7 linked regions of the Homo sapiens genome follow. The protein of the gene in region 5 purifies or fractionates together with the protein of the main gene of each other region. This does not show direct contact. Each region holds a gene or a part of one and is shown on either strand. Other genes may lie near its edges.

The links.
Region 1: the proteins of TRIM26 (region 5) and METTL8 purify together in Homo sapiens (affinity purification with mass spectrometry, with the first as the bait; one large-scale study listed by BioGRID). This does not show direct contact.
Region 2: the proteins of TRIM26 (region 5) and NQO1 purify together in Homo sapiens (affinity purification with mass spectrometry, with the first as the bait; one large-scale study listed by BioGRID). This does not show direct contact.
Region 3: the proteins of TRIM26 (region 5) and CHERP purify together in Homo sapiens (affinity purification with mass spectrometry; one large-scale study listed by BioGRID and IntAct). This does not show direct contact.
Region 4: the proteins of TRIM26 (region 5) and KRT6B purify together in Homo sapiens (affinity purification with mass spectrometry, with the first as the bait; one large-scale study listed by BioGRID). This does not show direct contact.
Region 6: the proteins of TRIM26 (region 5) and CTSZ purify together in Homo sapiens (affinity purification with mass spectrometry, with the first as the bait; one large-scale study listed by BioGRID). This does not show direct contact.
Region 7: the proteins of TRIM26 (region 5) and CCDC124 purify together in Homo sapiens (affinity purification with mass spectrometry, with the first as the bait; one large-scale study listed by BioGRID). This does not show direct contact.

What each region holds. Positions count from the first base shown.
Region 1 is NC_000002.12:171,332,991-171,336,490, forward strand, and holds part of METTL8 (tRNA N(3)-cytidine methyltransferase METTL8, mitochondrial), read right to left. Parts: intron 1-3,500. UniProt on the Homo sapiens protein: Mitochondrial S-adenosyl-L-methionine-dependent methyltransferase that mediates N(3)-methylcytidine modification of residue 32 of the tRNA anticodon loop of mitochondrial tRNA(Ser)(UCN) and tRNA(Thr).
Region 2 is NC_000016.10:69,716,561-69,720,060, forward strand, and holds part of NQO1 (NAD(P)H dehydrogenase [quinone] 1), read right to left. Parts: intron 1,975-3,500; coding exon 1,810-1,974; intron 1,694-1,809; coding exon 1,563-1,693; intron 1-1,562. UniProt on the Homo sapiens protein: Flavin-containing quinone reductase that catalyzes two-electron reduction of quinones to hydroquinones using either NADH or NADPH as electron donors.
Region 3 is NC_000019.10:16,521,938-16,525,437, forward strand, and holds part of CHERP (calcium homeostasis endoplasmic reticulum protein), read right to left. Parts: coding exon 3,305-3,500; intron 1,354-3,304; coding exon 1,115-1,353; intron 1-1,114. UniProt on the Homo sapiens protein: Involved in calcium homeostasis, growth and proliferation.
Region 4 is NC_000012.12:52,446,151-52,449,146, forward strand, and holds the end of KRT6B (keratin, type II cytoskeletal 6B), read right to left. Parts: intron 2,818-2,996; coding exon 2,692-2,817; intron 1,849-2,691; coding exon 1,628-1,848; intron 1,424-1,627; coding exon 1,389-1,423; intron 1,276-1,388; coding exon 1,040-1,275; 3' UTR 501-1,039; downstream 1-500.
Region 5 is NC_000006.12:30,199,907-30,203,406, forward strand, and holds part of TRIM26 (tripartite motif-containing protein 26), read right to left. Parts: intron 1,233-3,500; 5' UTR 1,129-1,232; intron 1-1,128.
Region 6 is NC_000020.11:58,994,685-58,997,254, forward strand, and holds the end of CTSZ (cathepsin Z preproprotein), read right to left. Parts: intron 2,118-2,570; coding exon 1,955-2,117; intron 1,076-1,954; coding exon 965-1,075; 3' UTR 501-964; downstream 1-500. UniProt on the Homo sapiens protein: Exhibits carboxy-monopeptidase as well as carboxy-dipeptidase activity. Capable of producing kinin potentiating peptides.
Region 7 is NC_000019.10:17,931,641-17,935,814, reverse strand, and holds the start of CCDC124 (coiled-coil domain-containing protein 124), read right to left. Parts: upstream 2,801-4,174; 5' UTR 2,767-2,800; intron 720-2,766; exon of another isoform or gene 624-719; intron 1-623. UniProt on the Homo sapiens protein: Ribosome-binding protein involved in ribosome hibernation: associates with translationally inactive ribosomes and stabilizes the nonrotated conformation of the 80S ribosome, thereby promoting ribosome preservation and storage.

The sequences.
Region 1 (3,500 bases), on a different chromosome or scaffold from region 5:
ATTCCAAGCAAGGTGAACCTCTAAATAAATATGGAATTTATTTAGCTAAATAAATATGCATTTAGCAAAATCTGACCCAGGTGCAGGTTATACTCTTTTTTTTTCTTTTCTTTTTTTTTTTTGAGACCCCAGAGTTTCGCTCTTGTTGCCCAGGCTGGAGTGCAATGGTGCAATCTCGGCTCACTGCAGTCTCCGCCTCCTGGGTTCAAGCAATTCTCCTGCCTCAGCCTCCCAAGTAGCTGGGATTACAGGCATGTGCTACCACGGCCGGCTAATTTTGTATTTTTAGTAGAGACAGGGTTTCACCATGTTGGTAAGGCTGGTCTTGAACTCCTGACCTCAGGTGATCCACCCACCTTGGACTCCCAAAGTGCTGGGATTACAGGAGTGAGCCACCGCACCTGGCCTCAGATTATATTCTTAAAGGCAACTCATTGATGAATAACTATGATAACATATAATTCACTCATTCTATGGCACTAGGGATTTGCATTCAATTTAAGATCTATCCAAATAAGTTAAAGTATGATTAATAGGATTTTGTTATGAAAAGCTAACCAGTACTGAATCAAAGTTAAAACTCATACTGCTTGGTCTTTTCTCATCTGTCAAACATAAAAATAGCACTTTACTTCAGCATGTTCCCCTGTTTTTTTCTGATTAAATCCATATAATTGTGACTTGTAATTTGCTGGGTGTTTGAAATGTATTTGAAATGTTCTCAGTAAACACTCAGCACTATGTGGCTAATGGTTAAGGGCAGGGGCTTTGGAACAAGACTGCCTAAGGTTTGAGTCTCAGCTTTACTACATAGTTGCATGACCTTGGGCTAGTTGCTTAATCTCTTCTTTAATTCAATTCCCTCATCTTTAAAAAAAGAGATAAACATGGCATCTAAGATGGTTGTTTGAAGTGAATGGATTCTTATAGCTAAAGTTTCCAGAAAGGTGCCTGATTCAGAGTAAGCACTCAATAAATGTTAGTCATTATTATAATTGTTGTTGCTATTATTATCATCACTATTATTATTAAAGGAGATTGTTTTTGCCTTCCAGGAGCTTAAAAACTAACATAGTCCTCTAAAACAAAACAAAACAAAACAAAACAAAACAAAACAAAAACCAAAAAACTTCCATATAGTTCAAAATGCTTTTCTGGACACTGGTATGTCTAGCTCATTATAAAAGGTCTGCAGTCTACCTTTGGGCAGTAGTTACCACATACCCATAAGATATAGAACAGTCTACGAGCTAAAGGAAAGCATGTGCCATATGCCATGTGTCCTGCCACGGTGGCAGCATGACCTCTAAGATGGAATTCCCACTGTATCAGCAGCCCAAGGTGATGTCTTGTGACCACCCAGTGACTTTCCAGAACCTTTCTGTAAAATCAGCTGACTACCTTGGCTCTTCTCCCAGCAAACAGGTGTAAATATCACTACTACCACCACACCACCAAGCACTCTCTTGGCAGGGGTCTATGAATTAAATGATCCTTGGAGAATGATATGACCTCTCCATTTCAGAGGTCTAATTATGGTAAAATATTCTGAAAATGTAAAACATTAATCCTACACTCTCTAAAAGTAGTAAAACATAATTTCTTAAGCAGAAAAAAAAAGTCTAATAATTCCTTTGGAAGGCTAATCACTGGTTGCCTTTAAAAGATGAATTAATTATCTGAGGTTATTGAGCTACAGTAATTTCTAAAACATAGGTATGAGGCAAAGAAAGACAGAGCTAAGAAGAAAGAGTTAGGGAGTGAGGAACCAAGAGCTTGCAATTATAAGCTGAAGGGAGAAGCAGAGGTGAAAAATACAACTAGCAAGTGGGGGAATGAGAGATATTAATCAGGCAATATGTATTGAGCTCCAACTAAGCTGTACTGTTAGGCAACCTGGGAAATCAGATTAGGATAAAATATGCCCTCTACCTTAAGGAATATAAAAAGTGGTCGGAGAGACAAGGCATAAATAAATGACATGCTAAATAATACCTTGAGATCAGTCATAAAGTAACACACAATCAACTGCCAATGTAGTGTATTTACGTGTATTATAAGCTCAGAGACCACTGGGGTAAAGGAATATGGCTATGTGACATAAGCAAGTTTGAAATTTCAGCCCAGAAACTAGAAAAAGGAAAACAAAACTAACAAAGACACAAACAGAAAGGACATTCAGAACTGTAAATTTACCAGCATCACCCAGGCCTGGCCACATTAACTGGTTATTAAATGATAGTAGGAAACTACTCACTATTCATTATGTTAGGTTTATAATAATATTAGAGAGTATACTGAGTTTTGGGAGATATATCCTGAATAATCAAGGATAAAGTATCATGATGTTGGCATTATATTGGTAATTGTTGAATTGAGGTGTTAGGCATATGGAAATTCACTGTACTCTTTGCTTTTCTGAATGTTTTTTAATTAAAAAAATTTTTTTTGAGACAGAGTCTCTTGCTCTGTCACCCAGGCTGGAGTGCAGTAGTGCGATCTCAGCTCACTGCAACCTCCACCTCCTGGGTTCAAGCAATTCTCCTGCCTCAGCCTCCCGAGTAGCTAGGATTACAATTGTGCACCACCACACTCAGCTAATTTTTGTATTTTTAGTAGAGACAGGGTTTCACCATGTTGGCCAGGCTGGTCTCAAACTCCTGACCTCAAGTGATCTGCCTGCCTCGTCCTCCCAAAGTGCTGGGATTACAGGTGTGAGCCACCGCACCAGGCCCCAGATGCTTTTACATTTTAATAATAAAAAGTTTAAAAGATCACATCATTTAAAAATATGCATAAAGACTGAAAGGAATTAAAACAAAAATTTTGTCAGTGGCTATGTTAGGATGATGAGTGATTCCCTCCCTCTCCTTTTCCTCTAATGGAAATGTTCTGCAACGTGCTAATGCTGATTTTATAATGGAAAAATAATGTGAACTTAAAAAAAATGTGTAAACTTAAAAAAGAATAGAGCTTGGCAGATTGGCCATAGATAAAAGGTGTTTGAAGAGTTTTGTGTGTTCATCATGGAAAAAGTAAAAGACACAGGTGAAATGGTGAACAGGAAGGGTGAGCCTGGAGCAAATCTCTGTCCCTGTAGTCAAACTCTGCTTTTTTTTTTTTTGAGACAAAGTTTCGCACTGTTGCCTGGGCTGGAGTGCAGTGGCGCATCTCAGCTCACTGCAACCTCCACCTCCTGGGTTCAAGCAATTCTCCTGTCTCGGCCTCCCGAGTAGCTGGGATTACAGGCGCCCGCCACCACACCCAGCTAATTTTTTGTATTTTTAGTAGAGATGGGGTTTCACTATGTTGGCCAGGCTGGTCTCGAACTCCTGATCTCGTGATTTGCCCGCCTTGGCCTCCCAAAGTGCTGGGATTACAGGCATGAGCCACCACGCCCGACTGCTTTTTTTTTTTTTTTTTTTTTTTTAGACGGAGTCTCACTCTGTCGCCCAGGCTGGAATGCAGTAGCGAGATCTCGGCTCACTGCAAGCTCGGCC
Region 2 (3,500 bases), on a different chromosome or scaffold from region 5:
AAGGTTCATCAGGGACTTCCCATGAGAAAGTCTTGTCTGACCTCTTATCCTAATAAAAGCAGAGTAAGGACTATACCAGGAGGTTTTCTTATCCTTGATTCATGATTTAAAGATATGAAAGGCACATGCCTATAATCCCAGCCTTTTGGGAGGTCCAGGCAGGCAGATCACTTGAGCCCAAGAGTTTGAGACCAGCCTGGGCAACATGGTGAGACCCTATTTGTACAAAAAAATTAAAAAATTAGCAGGGCATGGTGGTGTGCACTGATAGTCCCAGCTATTCGGGAGACTGAGGTGGGAGGATCATTTGAGCCCAGGAGGTTGAGGCAGCAGTGAGCAGAGATCATGCCACTGCACTCCATCCTGGGTGACCGTGAGACCTTGTCTCCAATTTAATTTTTTTTTAAAGCCGTCCTTTGGGGTACTGGCTAGTGGCATGTGGCTTTGATTCTTAGCAACAGGCCTGTGGGTAAAATAAAGGACTTCAAGGATTGGATGTTTTGTAGCTGATTGAATAACTAAAAAAAAAAAAGAGAGAGAGAGAGAAAAAAAAAACACAGCCTGTACCACCCTCCTCGTGGTTTCCAGGATCATATACATTCTATGTTCAATATCAAAAGACTGGCTGGAATTGTAAAAGCAAAGTCATTGAGTACAGTCACATTTATAGGAAAGATCACTGACGAGATGCACGCACAATCCCAGCATTGTCTGCTAAACGGTAAGGCAGCTTCCCGAAGAAGAAAGGCCGTGGTTTGCTGCAGGAACACATTCAGCAGGGTTTCAAAGCCCCCTTCAGCTGGCAGGCTACAATGGCAGAGAAGTCAATGTCTCATGGATTATTCTACAAAGTATTTGGGATTCTTATGGAGAAAGGAGGAGAACTGCAAATTTTGAGAGAGTCCAACAGGAATCGCTAACCGCAGGATTCGCTAACTGAAGGAATCGCTAACTGAAGGAATCGCTAACTGAAGGGGAGACTAAGTACCTGGAAGAAAGCAAGCTCAAGGACTGTACATCATCTCTGCAGCTGCATTTCTTTCTTTCTTTTTTTTTTTTTTTTGAGACAGAATCTCGCTCTGTCGCCATGTCACCAGGATGGGGTGCAGTGGCGCAATCTTGGTTCACTTCAACCTCCACCTCCCGGGTTCAAGTGATTCTCCTGCCTCAGCCTCCAGAGTAGCTGGGACTACAGGCACATGCCACCACGCCCAGCTAATTTTTGTACTTTTAGTAAAGACAGGGTTTCACCATGTTGGTCAGGATGGTCTTGGTCTCTTGACCTTGTGATTCACCTGCCTTGGCCTCCCAAAGTGCTGGGATTACAGGCGTGAGCCACCGTGCCTGGCCTTGCAGTTGCATTTACACATGCAACAGTAATACAGCCAGATTCCCAATATCTGTGAAATCCATGTAATACTGCACCTTTAAAGTAATCACCCTTATTTGCAGAGAATGCAGTAAAGTGGGTAACTGTTTAAGATCTCATAGCTAATTAGGTACATGTCTAGGACAATAAGCACGCAAATGTCCCTGACACCCCTTCCGATGTCCCCCCATACCTGGAATATCACAAGGTCTGCGGCTTCCAGCTTCTTTTGTTCAGCCACAATATCTGGGCTCAGATGGCCTTCTTTATAAGCCAGAACAGACTCGGCAGGATACTGAAAGTTCGCAGGGTCCTTCAGTTTACCTGCAGAGAAGAAAAAGAGAGGCTGGGGCCAGAGGGGCCAAAGCTGGGCCAGAGGACCCACAGGCAAGGAGATCCGCAAAGAACTAATTAAAGAGGGGAGGAGGAACTCCTCCTACCTGTGATGTCCTTTCTGGAAATGATGGGATTGAAGTTCATGGCATAGAGGTCCGACTCCACCACCTCCCATCCTTTCTTCTTCAAAGCCGCTGCAGCAGCCTCCTTCATGGCATAGTTGAAGGACGTCCTCTCTGAGTGAGCCAGTACGATCAGTGCTCTTCTGCCTACAGAGACACACACAAAGCACACACGGAAAACCCATTACCAACCAGCAAACCTTCAGCTACAGGGGAGTTGCAGTCTGTAAAGGAGGGGGCGGCTTTGTTTGACATTAGGTTATTGCATTCCATCTCCTGTAGCCAGAAATGTATTTTCCCCTTAAAAGCACTGAAGATTAAAGGAAGCATTTAAATCAGTGGCTGATTTAATAAATAATGTTGACAACTGGGCTCTGTGGCTCATAACTGTAATCCCAGCACTTTGGGAGGCCAAGGTGGGCAGATCACCTGAGGTCAGGAGTTTGAGACCAGCCTGGCCAACATGGTGAAACCCTGTCTCTACTAAAAATACAAAAATTAGCTGGGTGTGGTGGCAGGCACCTGTAATCCCAGCTACTTGGGAGGCTGAGGCAGGAGAATCACTTGAACTCGGGAGGGGGAGGTTGCAGTGAGCCAAGATTGCACCATTGCACTCCAGCCTGGGTGACAATGGGAGACTCCGTCTCAAAAAAAAAAAAAGATGCTCTGCGTGACCTGTCAGGAAAAGCAAAATTAAAATGAGACATTTACCCATTCGTTTACATGGGTACTGTGTTTACATTTACCGTGAGTTTACATTTACCCACAAAATGTAAAACAAATAACACCCAGGGTTATTAAGATTGTACCAACAGAAAAATTGGCACCTTACTGGTGGGGATAAGAACTGCCTCAACCTTTAGGGAAAGTAATGAGGCAGAATCTCTTGAAACTTTAAAGACACATAAATCTTTTATCTCGCTCTCCAATTTGGGGGAATCTGTTCTACAGACTAAAAGCTTCAGGCTATAAGAGCAAAGATGTGTATTACACCATGCTTTTCACTGGCAAAAATTAGATATAACCTGATTGTCTATGGGGAACATTTTAAGAAATTATGGGTACATCCACACTACAGGATATTTTGCTGTTAACAAGAATGAGTTGGCCAGGCACGGTGGTTCGAGCCTGTAATCCCAGCACTTTGGGAGGCTGAGGCGGGCAGGTCACGAGGTCAAGAGATCAAGACCATCCTGGCCAACATGGTGAAACCCTGTCTCTACAAAAATACAAAAATTAGCTGGGTGTGGTAGCGGGCACCTGTAATCCCAGCTATTCGGGAGCCTGAGGCAGGAGAATCGCTTGAACCCAGGAAGCAGAGGTTGCAGTGAGCTGAGATCTTGCCACTGCACTCCAGCCTGGGTGACAGAGTAAGACCCTGTCTCAGAAAAATAAATAAATTAAGATAAAAGTAAAAAATATATAAAAAAGAATGAGTTAAACTGGCTGGGCACAGTGGCTGGAGCCTGTAATCCAGCTACTTGGAAGGCTGAGGCGGCAAGATCCCTTGAGGCCAGGAGATGGAGACCAGCATGGGCAGCATAGTGACACCTTGTCATAAAAAAAAATTTTTAGAGACTGTTGACCAGGTACGGTTGCTCACGCTTCTAATTCCAGCACTTTGGGAGGCCAAGGCGGGAACATTGCTTGAGCCCAGGAGTTCAAGACCAGCC
Region 3 (3,500 bases), on a different chromosome or scaffold from region 5:
GAACACCCTCTGGTTTATTCAGACATGCAGCGGGCCCCTCACGTCACCCTTTGCTTGCAATGCCTACCCTGGGCCCCCGCTCAGAACAGCCTCAGCCCCGGCCCTGGAGCCCCCTGGCCTGTATCCTTCTTCTGCTCCGTCTCTGTCCTCCTGTTGAGGCCCTGCCCTGCCTGGCTTGCCTGGGCCCCCGCCCGCAGCTCTCCCTGCTGCCCATGGCTCCGTGAAGTCTGCCTGGACTTCAGGTGGATGTGTCTGAGGGGGTGGGAAGTGGCAGTGGCCAGCATGCCCTTGGAGGCCCCAAGCCCCGGCCCTGGCCTCCCCAACCCCCCCTTTTTTTTTTTGAGACGGAGTCCTGCTCTCGCCCAGGCTGGAGTGTAGTGGCGTGATCTCGGCTCAGTGCAAGCTCCGCCTCCCGGGTTCATGCCATTCTCCTGCCTCAGCCTCCCGAGCAGCTGGGACTACAGGCGTCTGCCACCACGCCTGGCTAATTTTTTGTATTTTTTAATAGAGACGGGGTTTCACCGTGTTAGCCAGGATGGTCTCGATCTCCTGACCTCGTGATCCGCCCGCCTCGGCCTCCCAAAGTGCTGGGATTACAGGTGTGAGCCACTACGCCTGGCCAGACCTGGCCCCTTCTTGCCTCACCTCTTGCCCTATGCTCCGGCCATCCCACAGTGGTACCAGCTGCTGCCAGCCCTGCCCGGCTTCTCCAGGGCCACCCCCCTCCCTGTGTGCTTGGTAGGCACAGCTCACAGGTGGCTCCTTCTAAGACATTCCCTCCATCAGCAGCCCTGGGACAAGGTGCTTCTGAGGCCCTGGACCAAGAAGGACGAAGAGAGGACTCGAGCCTCATAGCCTAGCTAGCCCCACATGGCTGAAGCTCCCTGTGGTGGGAGGGATAGGAGGGGCAGGGCAGGGCAGACATGGTGTCGCTCACAGCCACACCGTGCTACTCCGGTTCGGCACCTCCCACTGACGGATCAGGGTCCCTAGGGAGTGGGAGATGAAGGGGAGCCCCGGAAGGCACCCGGTCCCGTGCATTCACTTTTCACAAGGAGAAACGGGGACCAGTATGGTAAGCGTGCTCAGCTTGGAGCCCACTGTGGGGCATTACCTTCACGAGGGGGGCCATCAGCCCAGCAGGGAGATCGAAGTAGGGCACATTGGGGACCAGGCTGGGGTCATCGTGGTTGATGTGGGGTGGGCCCTGTCGCCGCATGTGTGGGGGCTGCCCGTTGAAGCCATGGGGGGGAGGGCCGAAGTCAGGGTGCTGGGGTCCAGCCCAAGGCGGGTGCTCGTTGATGCCAGGATGAGGCATGCGGTGGCCAGGGTGGTGGTGAGGGGGCCCCATTTCTGCAAAACAGAGACTTGCCTCAGGACCACAGGCCAGTCAGGATCTCCCAGGCGACAAGTGCTGGAGGGGAGGGGCTCAGTGAAGGGCCAGGAGACGAACCCCTCCTGGGAGCCTGTCCAGCATCTTCTCTCACTGCTTAAGACCAGGCAGCAAGGCACCGAGGAGCCAGGCTCCGAGGGGCCTGTCCCGCACCCATAGGCACAGCCGAGGGAGCTTGAGGCTGAGAGAAGAGAACCCCAAAACCCCAAAACTGCACGGTGAGGGCTAAGTTGTGACCCTCCGAATCCATACGCTGAGGTCCCAGCCCCCAGTAGCTCAGGACGGAACTGTATTTGGAGACAGAGCCTTCAAAGACACAAATGAGTTAAAATGAAGCCATAGTGGCCCGAATCCAACGTGACTGTTGCCGTTATAATAAGAGATTAGGACACAGACATGTAGAGAGAAGACGGTCACCTATGAGCCAAGGAGACAGGCCTCCAAGACACTAACCTGAACCCGCCACACCTCCACCTTGGACCTCCAGCCCCCAGATCCTTAAGACAATACATTCCAGCTGTTGAAGCCGTCCAGGCTGTGGGACTTATCATGTCAGCCCAAGCCAAAAAGTAAAAGCAATAAATGTGCCAAGCGGTCTTCAAGCTGCATTTATAATCAGAAATGTATTTAAAGAGAGAAGGCTGGGCATGGTGGCTCACGCCTGTAATCTCAGCACTTTGGGAGGCCAAGGCGGGTAGATCACTTGAGGCCCAGAGTTTGAGACCAGCCTGGCCAACATGGCGAAACCCCATCTACTAAAAATACAAAAATTAGCTGGGCATAGTGACTGATGCCTGTAATCCCAGCTACTGAGGAGGCCAAGGTGGAAGAATCACTTGAACCCAAGAGGAGGCTGCAGTGAGCCGAGACTGTGCCACTGCACTCCAGCCTGCGTGACAGTGAGGCTCAGTCTCAAAAAAACAACAAACAACAACAACAAAAGGCCAAGCGAGGTGGCTCACACCTTTCATCCCGGCACTTTGGGAGGCCGAGGCGGGCGGATCACCTGAGGTCAGGAGTTCGAGACCAGCCTGGGCAACATGGTGAAACCCTGTCTCTACTAAAGACACAAAAAATTAGCCAGGCATGGTGGCGCACACCTGTAATCCCAGCTACTCGGGAGGCTGAGGCAGGAGAATCATCTGAATCTGGGAGGCGGAGGTTGCAGTGAGCTGAGATTGTGCCATTGCACTCCAGCCTGGGCAACAGGGTGAGACTCTGTCTCAAAAAAAAAAAAAAGTACTAAAAGATTAGAAATAAAATCAATAACAAAGATACTAGGCATGGTGGCTCACATCTGTAGACCCAGCTACTCTAGAGGCTGAGGTGGGATGACTGCTTGAGCTCAGGAGTTTGAAAGTAGCCTGGCCAACATAGCAAGACCCCATCTCTATTTAAAATAAAATAAAATTTTTTTAAAAAAGAAAAGTAGTTTTTTGTTTTTTTTTTTTGAGACAGCGGTCTGTCGCCCAGGGTGGAGTACAGTGGTGCGATCACAGCTCACCGCAACCTCAGCCTTCTGAGCAGCTAGGACCATAGGCGCCCGACACCACGCCAAGTATTGATTTTTTAAACGAACTAATACAACGGGAAAACTGATGCAAAAAACAAGCAGCAGCAGTAAAAAGAACGAGGCCCCGCCCTGCCCTCGCCACGCCCACCCACGGCAGGAACCTTTTCCTACTGGCTCTGCCTCATCTGCAGCCAGCCGGGCCTCATCAGGGCGGCAAAACTGAGTCTGTGCCCCCACTTCCTGAGAACCCAGGCCGGGCTCCTCGGACGTCCCATGACCCTGTGTCTGTCACTGTGCACTCAGGAGCATGGCAGGGCCACAAGCAGCGCCACCAGCCTGCTCGGCAGGCGAGCCGTGGATGCCTCCGCCAGGCCCTACCCAGGCGCCCGTACACTCACCGGCAGGGAAGTCCCCCTGGGGGTAGTCGAAGCGGTGGGGATAGGGCGGCCGCTCGAAGGGGTGCCGTGGCGGGAAGTCGTCCTGCATGAAGCGGGGCGGGAAGCGGTTGAAGTTGTGGGGGTGCGGAGGCTGGTTGAACTGCGGGTGCTGCTGGTGGGGCGGGAAGGGCCCCCGGAAGTGTGGGGGCCGCTGCAT
Region 4 (2,996 bases), on a different chromosome or scaffold from region 5:
CAAAAGTCTTAATAATCATAGAGTCAGGGCAAGCACCTGCTTCTTACCAAGTGTTTCTGATCTGCAGGGTCAGTGCAATATTTCCCTGGTGGTGGGGAGCCGGGGAGAGAGGGAGTCTCAGAGATCAGTGTGGGGTCAAGCCACCAAATGATGGGGCTGAAAAATAAAAAATATAAATGAATCTTAGTTATCAGATTATGCTGATCCAGATTCCAGGAATTAGCTTCCCTTTTTGTTCTGATGCTTTATAAAAGACTCCATTTGTGGAAAAATTCCCAAGTGGTGAGGGCTGAGTAGTTGGTGATTGTCCACCGGAGTGTCCGACAGAATCACATAATGTTGACTGATGGAGTAGGCTGTGGAGGGGGAGCTCCCGACTCATCCTCCATGATGACTGGTCAGTGGGGAGAGCAGCAGTTCCCCAAAGATAAGAAACCATTTGTGGGGTGCGAATGTTTCTAAACCAGGAAGTGGTCAGCAATACAATCTAACACAACATGTTCACATTCTCAATATGCTTTATTCAACAGAACAAAAGAAGGCAAAGAGAGCAGAGAAAGCAGTGCAGGAATGCAGACTGCATCAGAAGGTACATCACTTGCCATTCAGGGACACTGCAAGAGAAGATCAGGACAACTGACTTGTCAGATGAGAACTCCTGAGTGTAGCTATAATGGGCAGGATGGTTAGCAATTAAAGAGAGGACTCCTCATCTGCAGCTGGACCTAGACTGAGTTTCAGTTCTTATGGGGATATAGGTCATTTTCTTCTCAGAATTATGGCAGACTCAGATACCTGTAATAATACGGGAACTAAAAAGGACATTCGCATGTCTGAGTGCTGATAACTGTTGACTTGATGGTAAGCAACAGGAGCTCAGTGGAACAGGTATTGATGAGAAGAAAAGTGAGGGCATCCCAGCTCTACCCGGGAGGGCAGGGGAGACTGGAGGCCAGGGGAGGACAAGCAACCTGAGGAGAGGGCTCTGCTGCCAGAGAGGGGCCTGAGAGCTGTGGGACTGAGAGCTGGCGGCAGCACTTCAGTGCTTGTAGCTCTTCCTGCTGGAGGAGGAGGTGGTGGTGTACTTGATGGTGGAACTGCCGCCTCCAACAGAGCTGAGGCCACCCCCAGTGGCTCTGCCGCTGCTGGAACTAAAGCCGCCTCCAACGCCAAGACCACTGCCATAGGAGTAGCTGCTTCCTCCACCCAGGCCTAAGCCACTGCCGACACCGCTGGCACCGCCATAGCCACTGGAGACGGTGGACTGCACTACAGCTGTGGTGGGGAGGGGACAAGGACACAAGAAGCCACAATGAGTTCATCCTGCCGGCCTGAGCCCAGTCAGGAGAGTGCAAGGGCAGGGGAGGAAGGCAAACAAAGGTACTTACAGATGTTGACTTGTCCAACGCCTTCGCCATTCAGCCTGTGGAGAGGAACACAGGGAGGGTGAGACCTTCCCTGGACGAGCATGGGAAGCCTCAGTGGGTGGGAAAGTCCATGGGAAAACTTTTAGTTTTCTCCCAAGAAGAGCAATTATGGCCTTGGGCAGTGCACCTTAAAGTTGTGCTCAGTGCCAGAACCTTGAAGATGGACTCAGCTGTTGGAGGAAGTCGCGTCAGTTACCCACCTGCACTCCTCGCCCTCCAGCAGCTTGCGGTAGGTGGCGATCTCCACATCCAGGGCCAGCTTGACGTTCATCAGCTCCTGGTACTCCTTCAGCAGCCGGGCCAGGTCCTGCTTGGCCTTCTGCAGGGCATCCTCCAGCCCTTCCAGCTTGTTCTTAGCATCCTTGAGGGCCATCTCCCCACGCTGCTCAGCATCAGCAATGGCGGCCTGTAGGTTGGCACACTAGGAGGGCAAAGGAAGAGAAAGAACTTGTCATCTGGTCTTCCAGAGAAGAATAAACCTGGCTGGTTCTTTTCCAGTGAAGAAGGCACCAGGAACCCAGAACTGATGGTAAATGAGCTCTGACTCTTCCTGTCTAGCCTTTTTACTGTCTTCAAAGTTTTTACGTCTGGAGTCACATGATAAAATCCTGTGCCCTTTCTGTTAACTCCACTGCCTAAAGATGTGGGTGATGACCAATGGAAGATGCCACAGTGGACACAAGACCAAGGACATTAAGTGTTGGCTCCAAAGCAAAAAAACCAAAACCATTTTTGATGACCTTACATGGATGCCACAATAATTTGCAAACGTTGTCAACTGAGGTGATGAGTTTTCACATGAGGCTGTTGTGACCTTGCCTTCCTCCTGCCTCACATCCTCTCACCTGCTTGGGCCACGTTTTCCTTCCTCATAGCCCTGGTTTCACTTGCTTTTTCACCGTGAACCTTGAGCAGATTTGCAGCAATGTTACTGATGCTTTCTGACCTGACATCTTGCCCAACTTGGTCCTTTGCAATTCCAAAGTCAATCAGTCTTCTTACATAAGCCCTTCCAATGCCTCTAGACTATACTTTTACAGCTTTGACCAGCTGAGAGTGCTTCTGCCCAGGTGATTGTTTCATATCCTTGGGTGTGATCCATGTCTCTGAGCCAGAGTGTTCTCACTGAGCCTAGGAACTGCATGTCTTTCCTTCTCTGCTTATCAATCAATTCCCAAAGAATTTTACTAAATGATGGGTGACTACTGCCTCATGACCTAATAAAAAAAATGATGCTTTTCTCCTCCATTGCCCCTCACCATACCTGCTTCTTGACGTGGTCGATCTCAGATCTCAGCCTCTGGATCATGCGGTTGATCTCAGCAATCTCCTGCTTGGTGTTGCGCAGGTCGTCCCCATGTCTGCCTGCTGTGATCTGCAGCTCCTCGTACTGCAGCCCAGAGGTGGAGAGAGAGACAGTGTCTACGGGTTCTTACCTGGGAGCGATGACTTTCACTTGTGTATCATGAATGTCATGAAGTGGACCTAATGGCTTCTCCCCAAGAAACTTGAGGAAAAGTTGATGTTATGTGGTGGGTGGATACTAAACACTGGAGTCACAGACCATCC
Region 5 (3,500 bases):
ATTACAGGCGTGAGCCACTGCACCTGGCCAAGAGACCCCTTTTGTTTGCTCCTCAAGGTTTCAGGTTTCAAGAACTAAGAGAGGGCAATGTGACATGGCTCACCCTGTAAATCCAACACTTTGGGTGGCTGAGGCAGGAGGATCACTTGAACCGAGGAGTTTGAAACCAGCCTCAGCAACATAGTGAGACCCTGTCTCAACTAAAAAAATTTAAAAATTTTTTAAAATACCCCAGTGTAGTAGCATGCATCTGTAGTCTCAGCTACTGAGGAGGCTGTGGCAGAAGGATTACTTGAATCTGGGAGGTGGAGGCTACAGTGAGCCATGATTGTACTACTACACTCCAGACTGGGCAACAGAATAAGAGACTGTCTCAAAACAAACAAAAAACCAGAAAACATTAAAAAACAAACAAACAAACAGCACTGAGGTTCTTTACCAAAACTCGAGAAGCATCAGGAAGCTTCAGGAGTCTGACTGTCAGCATTTCCCTTTGTGAGTATTTCCCTGGGCTGTTCTATAGTTTGGGTTTAATTTGCTTCCCCTAGAAGGCTGGACTCTAAACACAGCCCTCCAGAGGAGCACAGCTTAGCCTCAGTGGACTTGTTCTTGGCTGTAACTGCCTCGTCTAGATGGCAGGAATCCTCAGGTGGCTGTGGCTGCTATGTGCTGTGAGGCCTTGGCTTGTACAGGGAGCGGGGACACACAGAAAGGACTCTGCTTCTGTTTACCTTTGTAGTCCTGACCCAGTTCCAGGCTGAGGTTATGAGCCTCAGCACATCTAACCCAAGAGCAGCCTCCTGCCCCTGACTCTGTGTGACAATACAGAAGTCACTTAAGTACTGAGCCTCAGTGTATCCATCTGTAAAATGGGAAGAGTGATACTTACCTTTAAGGGTTTCTAAGCAGGTCATGTGAAAGAATTATGGGAAAAGTGCTAAGCACAAGCCTGGTACACAGACGGAAATCTAGGAGAGAACCCACAACCCCTGGTTTCCAAATCCAGTGAGTGTCCAAACCACAAACAAAGAGTTAAATTCAAAAGTGGCAGCAAAAGAGGAAGTGAGCAGAACCAGCCACAGTGACACACGTGCTACAGAGTTCAACAACATCGTCACAGGGCAGTACCTGGAGGACTTGCTCTCCTATAGATCCATGGAAGGCAACTACAGCAGCGCTGGGAAGACAACCAGCAGGGCACAGAGGTGACTGCGAGGCTGGAATGAAGCAACCTGAATTACAGGCAAATCAATACTATTAATGATTATGTATGGTGAAAGTCCATCACAACAGAGTTCAGTGGCCTCTGTCAGTAGTGACATTAATGGGACAGAAATAAAACCCCCAGTCTATAAGACCCAAGAGTAAACAAAACAGGGATATAACGTCCACTCATTGAGGGTCTAGTACAATAATACATAAAAAGTGTTTTATAACGTAAAAGGACTACATAAATATAAGAGATTCTTATAGTGCTGATAATAAATTCCAACTGGAAGCACTAATGGATCTAGGTATGTGTGACTTTAAGAGACATAATGAGGGGAAAATCAAGCACCTTCAAAGCTCAAATGAAGGATTCAAGGAATTTAACTGTCAAGTGAAAGTAATATCAAGTTCCTACATGTTAGTAATGCTGGTAGAAATGCTAGGAATTGGCCGGGCACGGTGGCTCACACCTGTAATCCCAACACTTTGGGAGGCCGAGGCAGGTGAATCACAATGTCAGGAGATTGAGACCATCCTGGCTAACACGGTGAAACCCCATCTCTACTAAAAATACAAAAATTATCCAGGTGTGGTAGCATGCACCTGTAGTCCCAGCTACTCAGGAGGCTGAGGCAGGAGAATCAATCACCTCAACCCGGGAGGCAGAGGTTGCAGTGAGCCGAGATCGTGCCATTGCACTCCAGCCTGGGTGACAGAGTGAGACTCCATCTCAAAAAAAAAAAAAGAAAGAAATGCTAGGAATTGCCTGGTCCAACTCCTTGGCTTTACTGTTGAGGAAATAAGCCTGGCTCAGCAGTTTTTCAGTTGTAACATACTGCAAGTGTTTGGAAAGAGGAAAAAGGAGTGGTACTGGGCGTGTCTGTGGGCTTTCAAGCCCTTTATCATGCCTCTTTGCCAAATGGCCTAGAAGTTTAAAAGCTGAGGTTTTTCTTTGTTGAAGGATAGCCTGTGTTATCTTTGGGTTGGGAACTTATTTTGCAATTTACTTGCAAAATAAGAACAATAAAAGGACTATGAAGAGCTCAGCTACAGCTCTTCTTCCATGCAAAACAGGACACCTCATCACCCAGGCTCCATGCTGGGGTTTGATGGTCTCTAAACCTCCTGAAACTGTCTAAAAATTATTGCATATGTACTAGATACCTAAAATTGTCTGGGGATTACAGAAGAATAACCTTCTGTAAGATTAATCAGCAAATAAGTAGAAGAGGGATAACAGAATTAGAAAATCATTTTGCGACTGCCATTATAATAGCACAAGGATCATCAATAGATGCTAAAACTATTAGGTGAAAAGTTTTGGGGGATGAGATAGTACCCATGGTGCCAAAGCACCAATGAATGGATTACTTCCTGACATACCTTCATAAGGAAGAGATCCAGTGGTTATCTTAACTAAGTGACCAAATCCAGCGTCATCAGCAGACGGGGCAAAGTGGCATGTGCTTTCTGGCATGGCACTATATGAATCACACAACATTACCTATGAAGTGTTTGTGCCAAAAATGTTTGACTTGAATGAATCTAGTCAAGACTTTAGATCTAACTTCCAGTTTATAAAAAATATAAAGGAAAGGAATACTCTGAAGTATGTTATAACTGAAAAAGTACCGATGGAGGAATTAAACCACACCATAAGGAAAGAACCAGATAAATCCAGAATGCTGGACATTGCACATGGCAACTGGCCTAGTCTTTTAAAAAGTCAATGTCATAAAAAAAAACCTTCGAAAGAACTGCTTTTGATTTTTACAGACTAAAGAGAAATAATAACCAAATGCAATACGTGAACCTTGATTGGATCCTGTAAAAAGAAAAAAAAGGTTATAAAAATAGTCTTGGAACTATTGTGGGAAATTTGTAAGTAGGCTGGGTGTTAGATCATATTAAAAAATTATTTCCTCTCTTTCTTTTTTTTTTTTTTTTTTTTGAGACAGGGTCTTACTCTGTCCCCCAGAGTGCAGTGGAACTATCTGGGCTCACTGCAACCTCGGCCTCCCTGGCTCAAGCAATCTTCTCATCTCAGGCTCCCGAGTTGCTGCAACAACAGGTGCATACTACCACACTTGGCTAATTTTTAAAGGTTTTTGTAGAGAAGAGTTGCCACTATATTGCCCAGGCTGGTCTCAAACTCCTAGGCTCAAGCCATCCTCCCACCTCAGCCTCCCAAAGTGCTGGGATTATAGGCATGAGCAACTGCACCATGTCTAAAATTATTTTCTTAATGGTATTTACTGAGGTTATGTATGAGAATGCCTATACTTCTTATT
Region 6 (2,570 bases), on a different chromosome or scaffold from region 5:
ATCCTCCAGAGCTGAAGCAGAACATTCCAGAACCCGTTGTGGAAAAACCCTTTCAAGAAGCTGTTTTAAGAGGCTCGGGCAGCGTCTTGAAAATGGGCACCGCTGGGAGGAGGTGGATGACTTCTTTACAAAGGAAAATGGTAGCAGCTTCAGTGAGAAACTGCCCTTACAAACAGTCCCTTCTCTGCTGTCAATCCAATACTGCTCCCAAATCCTGTTTTCAGTGTTCATTTCCCTCAAGGCAGGCGCTGGGCTCCCACGACCCCTCAGGACAGATCTGGCCGTCAGCCGCGGGCCGCTGGGAACTCCACTCGGGGAACTCCTTTCCAAGCTGACCTCAGTTTTCTCACAAGAACCCAGTTAGCTGATGTTTTATTGTAATTGTCTTAATTTGCTAAGAACAAGTAATAAGTAAATTTTTAAAAAGCCTTTCTGCTGGGTTGGATTAAGTCCTGATGTGACATTGTTTTTGTGTGCGAATAAGGCACGGGCAGCCTCAGTCTCGTGCAGAGCCAGATACTTTATTCATCACTTGGGCGATTTGAAACTGCCAACTCCCTCCCTCCCTCCCCCACCCTTGATTCTAAAGTGACATAAGAATGGTGATAAGTCTGAACTCTTTCACCTCTTAAATGCCATATTATTGCCCACAGTTGCCAAATACAAAATATCAAGTCCTCTGCTGAAGAAGACTGAGGTCCCATCGTTTCCTGTGTCGCAGGTCACTTCTTCACCAGGTGGCTGACTGCATCATTGTGAGGCAGAGCCATGCTGTGCAAGTGTCATAAGTCATCCCACTTTCAACTCTCAGGAACACTCGCAGCCAGTGCCACGCTGTCCTCGCCATCCAATATTGATAGCCACCCCAGTTCCTGCCAGCCAGCCTGGCACACATAACCATAGGATCCCCTCTGGTCATGGGTCACCATGCCTTTTCTTAAACTGCGCTTCTAGTGACATGGCCTTAAACGATGGGGTCCCCAAATGTACAGTGCTCCTCGATGGCAAGGTTGTATCTGGCGCCCTTCCCATCCTTATAGGTGCTGGTCACGATCCTCAGCCAGCCTCTCTCGCCCTGTGAGAAGTGGGATCGCGCGTCAGCCCATCTGCAGCCGTCTCCCGCTCCCCTTGCTGCCGTCAGCCCCCTGCCCCCTGCTTTCTGCCTCCATCTCTCAGGCCAGCCTTGGGGGATCCAGACAGCCCACTCAGCTGCCCCTCAGCTTTCCCATGACCCCTGTTCTGAAATACCTTTTGTGAAACATTTCACTTGGTTAATGTTTAACATGAGGGCCCTCTATGCCAGAAGTGAATTCATCTCACAAAACATGTTGACTCTAGACTGGTGCCTCCTCCAGCTACTACTACCCCCATTAGTCACCTAGTAAAAAATGACGACATTTCATCACCTGCACATGAACCGCTTTCCCCCCATTTCTTAATCATGAATTTCTGTGTCTTAAATTATTAATGGCTAAGACTAGGTCTGGCAGTTAATTTCTCTCTCCTGGATTTTTGGCCCAACTCGAGTATTTTTGAAAAACCGACACAGTATTTTAGGGGAGCCCAAAAACCATGATGGGAAAAAGAATGAGCTGGTTGTAAAGGAAGAGGGTGGCAGAGCCCCTCTCCAGCAGTGCTCACAGGGACTTCCCCAGGGCACCAGGCACCATCTGGAGACGGTTTTGGTCACACTGGGATTGCGGGGAGTCACCTAGTGGGTGGAGGGGCCAGGGATGCTGCTGAACACCCAAAGTGCACAGGATGGCGGCAGCCGCGCATGTCAGAGAAGGGTCTGGCCCCAAAAGCCACTCGCGCGGTGGCTGAGACAGCTGGAGCAAGGAACCCTCTGTCAAGGCCCCAGTTTTTAGCTAAACGTAAACAGAACCATTCAAGCGAGAGGAGTACCAGGACGTTTTTTTCTAGGAATGACCTTAAGAAAATGAAAACATCTTACCCATGGTTCACCCCATGAATTCCGGACAATCCAGTACTCAGTCCCATCACTGATGCCCCACCCAGCCACAGAAACGACATGGTTTATATATGTGGTGTCCTGGTATTCGGCATAGATGCCTCCGGTGTAGTTAGCCAGTCTTTCTGTTGCCATTATTCCACAGCTGAGAGCAAGCAGTTAAAGAATTACCACTTTTAAATTGAGAGAATTTACCGTCATTAGAAATAATCTGATATGGCTGGGCGCCGTGGCTCACGCCTGTAATTCCAGCACTTTGGGAGGCCGAGGCAGGTGGATCGCTTGAGTCCAGGAATTCAAGACCAGCCTGGGCAAGATGGCGAAACCCCACCTCTACAGAAAATACAAAAATTAGCTGGGTGTGGTGGTGTGCGCCAGTAGTCCCAGCTACTCGGTGGAGGGGGCTGAGGCGGGAGGATAGCTTGAGCCCGGGCGGTCAAGGCTGCAGTGAGCGAAGATCATACCACTGCACTCCAGCCTGGGTGACAGAGTGAGACTGTGTTTCAAAAAAAAAAAAAAAAAAAAAAATCTGGTATGACAACAAAGTGTAAACCCGACTCAGGTAGTGTATATCTGACGGTTCTGGATAAACTTCTGT
Region 7 (4,174 bases), on a different chromosome or scaffold from region 5:
GGTCAGGAGTTCAAAACCAGTCTAGTCAACATGGTGAAACCCCGTGTCAACTAAAAATAAATAAAAATTGCTGGGTGTGGTGGCGGACACCTTTAATCCCAGCTACTCAGGAGGCTGAGGCAGGAAAGCCGCTTGAACCTGGGAGGCAGAGGTTGCAGTGAGCCGAGATCGTGCAACTGCACTCCAGCCTAGGCGGCAGAGTGAGACTCACTCTCAAAAAAAACCAAAAAGCTGGGTGTGGTGGCACATGCCTATAATCCCAGCTACTCGGGAGGCTGAGGCAGGAGAATCACTTGAACCCGGGAGGCGGAGGTTGCAATGAGCTGAGATCACACCACTGCACTCCAGCCTAGGCGACAGAGCGAGACTCCATCTCAAAAAAAAAAAAAGGTGTACAATTCAGTGTTTAAGTATATTCACAGCGTTGTGCAAATACCACCTCTGTCTAGTTCCAGAACACTTGCACCCCCCAAAAGAGGCCACATCACCATCAGCAGTCACTCCCTATTCCTCTTCCCCTAGCCCCTGGTAACCATCAATCTGCTTTCTGTCTCTGTGGCTTTCCCTGTTCTGGACATTTCAGTCCATATCAATGGAATCACAGGCCGGGTGCGATCACTCACGTTTGTAATCCCCGTGCTTTGGGAGGCTGAGGCAGGAGGATTGCTTGAGGCCAGGAGTTCAAGACCAGCCTGGGCAACATAGCAAGAGTCCGTCTCTACAAAATAAAAAATAATTAGGCACAGTGGCTTGTGCCTGTAGTTCCAGCTACTTAGGAGGCTGAGGTGGAAGGATCGCCTGAGCGTAGGAGGCTGAGGCCACAGTGAGCTATGATTGTGCCACTGCACTCCAGCCTGGGCAACAGAACAAGACCCTGTCTCTTAAAAGAAAAAAAAAAAAAGGAAACAAGGAAACAAGGCACCAATACATACATGATACAATGTGGTTGAACCTCAACAACACAATACTAAGTGAAAGAAGCCAGACACAAAAGGCCACACAGTGTGAGAGTACATTTATTTATTTATTTTGGAGACAGGGTCTCACTCTGTCGCCCAGGCTGGAGTGCAGTGGCGAAATCTCGGCTTACTGCAGCCTTGACCTCCTGGGCTCAAGTGATCCTCCCACCTGAGCCTCCTAAGTAGCTGGGACTATAGGTGCAGGCCACCATGCCTAGCTTTTTTTTTTTTTTTTTAAGGCAGGGTCTGACTATGTTGCCCAGGCTGGCCTTGAACTCCTGGGCTCAAGTGATCCTCCCGCCTCGGCCTTCCAAAGTGCTGGGATTACAGGCCTGAGCCACTGCGCCTGGCCCTTCGTTCCTTTTTATGGCTGAATATTCCTCCACTGCATGGATACGCCACATTTTGTTTATCCATTGTCCACAGCTAGACATTTGGGCTGTTTCCACGTTGGGGCTTTTTTTTGTTTTGAGACGGAGTTTTGCTCTTTCACCCAGGCTGGAATGCAGTGGCACAATCTCGGCTCACTGCAACCTCCACCCACCCGGTTCAAGCAATTCTCCTGTTTCAGCCTCCCAAGCAGCTAGGATTACAGGCACCTGCCACCACGCCCGGCTAATTTTTGTATTTTTATAGAGATGGGGTTTCACCATGTTGGCATGTGCCACCATGCCTATCTGATTTTTGTATTTTTAGTAGAGACGGGGTTTCACTATGTTGGCCAGGCTGGTCTCAAACTCTTGACCTCAAGTGATCCGCTTGCCTCGGCCTCTCAAAGTGCCTGGATTACAGGTGTGAGCCACAGTGCCTGGCAATTTCTGCTGTTTAAGCCACCCAGTCTGTGGTATTAGTTATGACAGCCCAAGCTGGAAATACAGACACTTTTCTCTGTGTAGTAAACACTCACTCACTTGCACACGTCATTCAATAAATATGTACTGGGCACCTAATACGTGTGCGATGCTGGGGAAAGAGGTGGCACAAATGAGCTTTCTGCCTGCATGGGACTCCCAGAGAAGAGCCAACACATGCAATCAGAGTCCTAATAAGGACACGCAGGGCGCCGGGGAAGCCCGGAGAGGGCTTCTGACCCAGCCTGGGTCAAAGGGCTTCCTAAAGGAGACATCTAAGGAAAAGTCTGAATGAGTGGGGGAGAGCGCAGCCTGCACGCGGGATGCAGGAGGTAGGCTGGAAAAGGGGGCGATTTGTATTCCAGGGAGATGGGAAGGTGTGGAGGGCGTTAGAGCCGGGAAGCCCAATCTATGGGTCACACAAGCCCTCTGGGGTTAGTGAGGAGGTGGACTCCCCAGATGGCAGGAGCTGGGAGCCCAGGCGGTACCCAGGGAGTGGCTCAGGCTGGGCGAGGGGCACACTTAGAAGCGAATCAAGACCCATGGGGATTAAGACCCCACGGATGTGAAGGTAAAATAACAGAATACAAAATTCAACAATGCCTCCTCTAAGCAGCCCTCCCGGCTATCCCTTTTGAAGTCCCCCACCACTAATCCCCCTACAAGAGGCCGGGGGAGTCCGCGCCCAACTCTGTCCCTCTCGAGACCAGAAGCTGCCTAGGGGCAGTCCGGGGCCAGGTGGCCTCGAACATGCTGTCGCGTCGGGCTTCAATCGTCTAGTCTGGAAATGGGCATCGCCCCCAACTAGGTGCGGTTCAGACTGGACGCCAGAAGTGCTCCTGCCTCCCAGCACCCCTCCTCCAGCCTTCCCAGGGGATGGTCCCAGGCCAAGCAGCCCCCGCCCCGCGCCTCTGCTCCCCGAACCCGGGTTCCGCCCGCGCCGCAGACGCTCCTACCTTCTTACCCCAGCGCCGGCCCGGTCGCGCCTCCGTGACGTCATCATGGGGCCTGCGCGCTGAGCTCCTGGCGGCGCGCACTCATTGCGCCTCAGTACCGCCGCCATTTTGGTAAAGAAAAAGATGGCTGGGCCTCGGACCCAAGCCAGGGTAGTCAGCCACTTCTTTGTCTCTTCAAAAAGAGGACACTTAATACGCCCTCATTCCCTACGCTCATTTAATATGTTGATGAACCAGGAGGGGCGGGCAGAGGCGAAAATCTAGAACATTGCCTTTACCAAGATGGCCGATGCCCGGATGAAAGATGGCAGCTGCGACTACACACGTGGTCCGGCGGCTTCAGCCTGGAGCGGCCCGGCCGCCAGAGCGCGCCCGCGGTCCATGAGGGGAGGTGGACCCAGTATAGCCCTGAGGAAGCCTCTCCGTAGCTCTTCGCAATCCCTTAACGCTTTAAAAGTGCTTTCCTAGTCCTGAGTCTCTGCGTCCCACTGGTGACGCTGGGGCGGGGCTAGGAGAGGGGAGATAAATGGGGCAGAGAAATTAACACACACCGCGCAGTCCAGGTAGGGAAACCGAGGCTCAGAGAGACCAGGAATTGAGTTTGGCCAAAATGTAACCGCGAGTAGGCTCATAACCGCGAGTAGGCTCAAATTCCGTCTCTTGCTCCTGCCAGTGCCTCTTCCTGGATTGCTGACCTGCTCCCCACTTCTGCAATATTATTTATTAATTTTATTTAGAAATTAGGTTTGAGGCGCCAATTTGTCTTAGGCACTATACTTTAGATTTTCTGCATTTACTACTTCTCGGTGTTCTCAACAGTAAAAATGGCAGTATTAGGGGTCTAAGGTTACACTGGTCCTGACTGTGGAGAGGGAAAAGCAAATGCTTTGGGGGCAGTTCAGGTAGGAGTAGTTGACCACAGAGTCCATTCCCTAAAAGGCATCCCCCCAGCGACCTTGCTGGGACCTAAATCCCAGTGCGCGATGCACCTCCCCTGCTCTAACGCCTCCCCTGGGTTCCCATTGTCCCGCAAGACTCCTCCCACCTCCCACCCCATCTCCCTTGGCTTCCCTCACCCTCCCATTAGCTCTCTGCTCAGGTCGCACCAGCCCCCTTCTTACAAATTGCCAGGCGCAGTCTTGCCTCAGGGAGTTCCCCCAGGAATTTCCCAGGTTTTTCCGTGGCCAGTTCCTTCCCTTCAGGCATGAGACAGAAAGGTCTCTGGGTGCAGGGGGCTTAAAGTCGGAAAATCACATGAAAGATTATTATCCTGGCTGGTCGCAGTGGCACATGCCTGTGATCCCAACCCTTTGGAAGGCTAAGGTGGGAGGATCGCTTGAGGCCAGGTGTTTGAAAGCAGCCTGGGCAACATTATGAGACCCCATCTCGACAGAAGATAAAAACATTA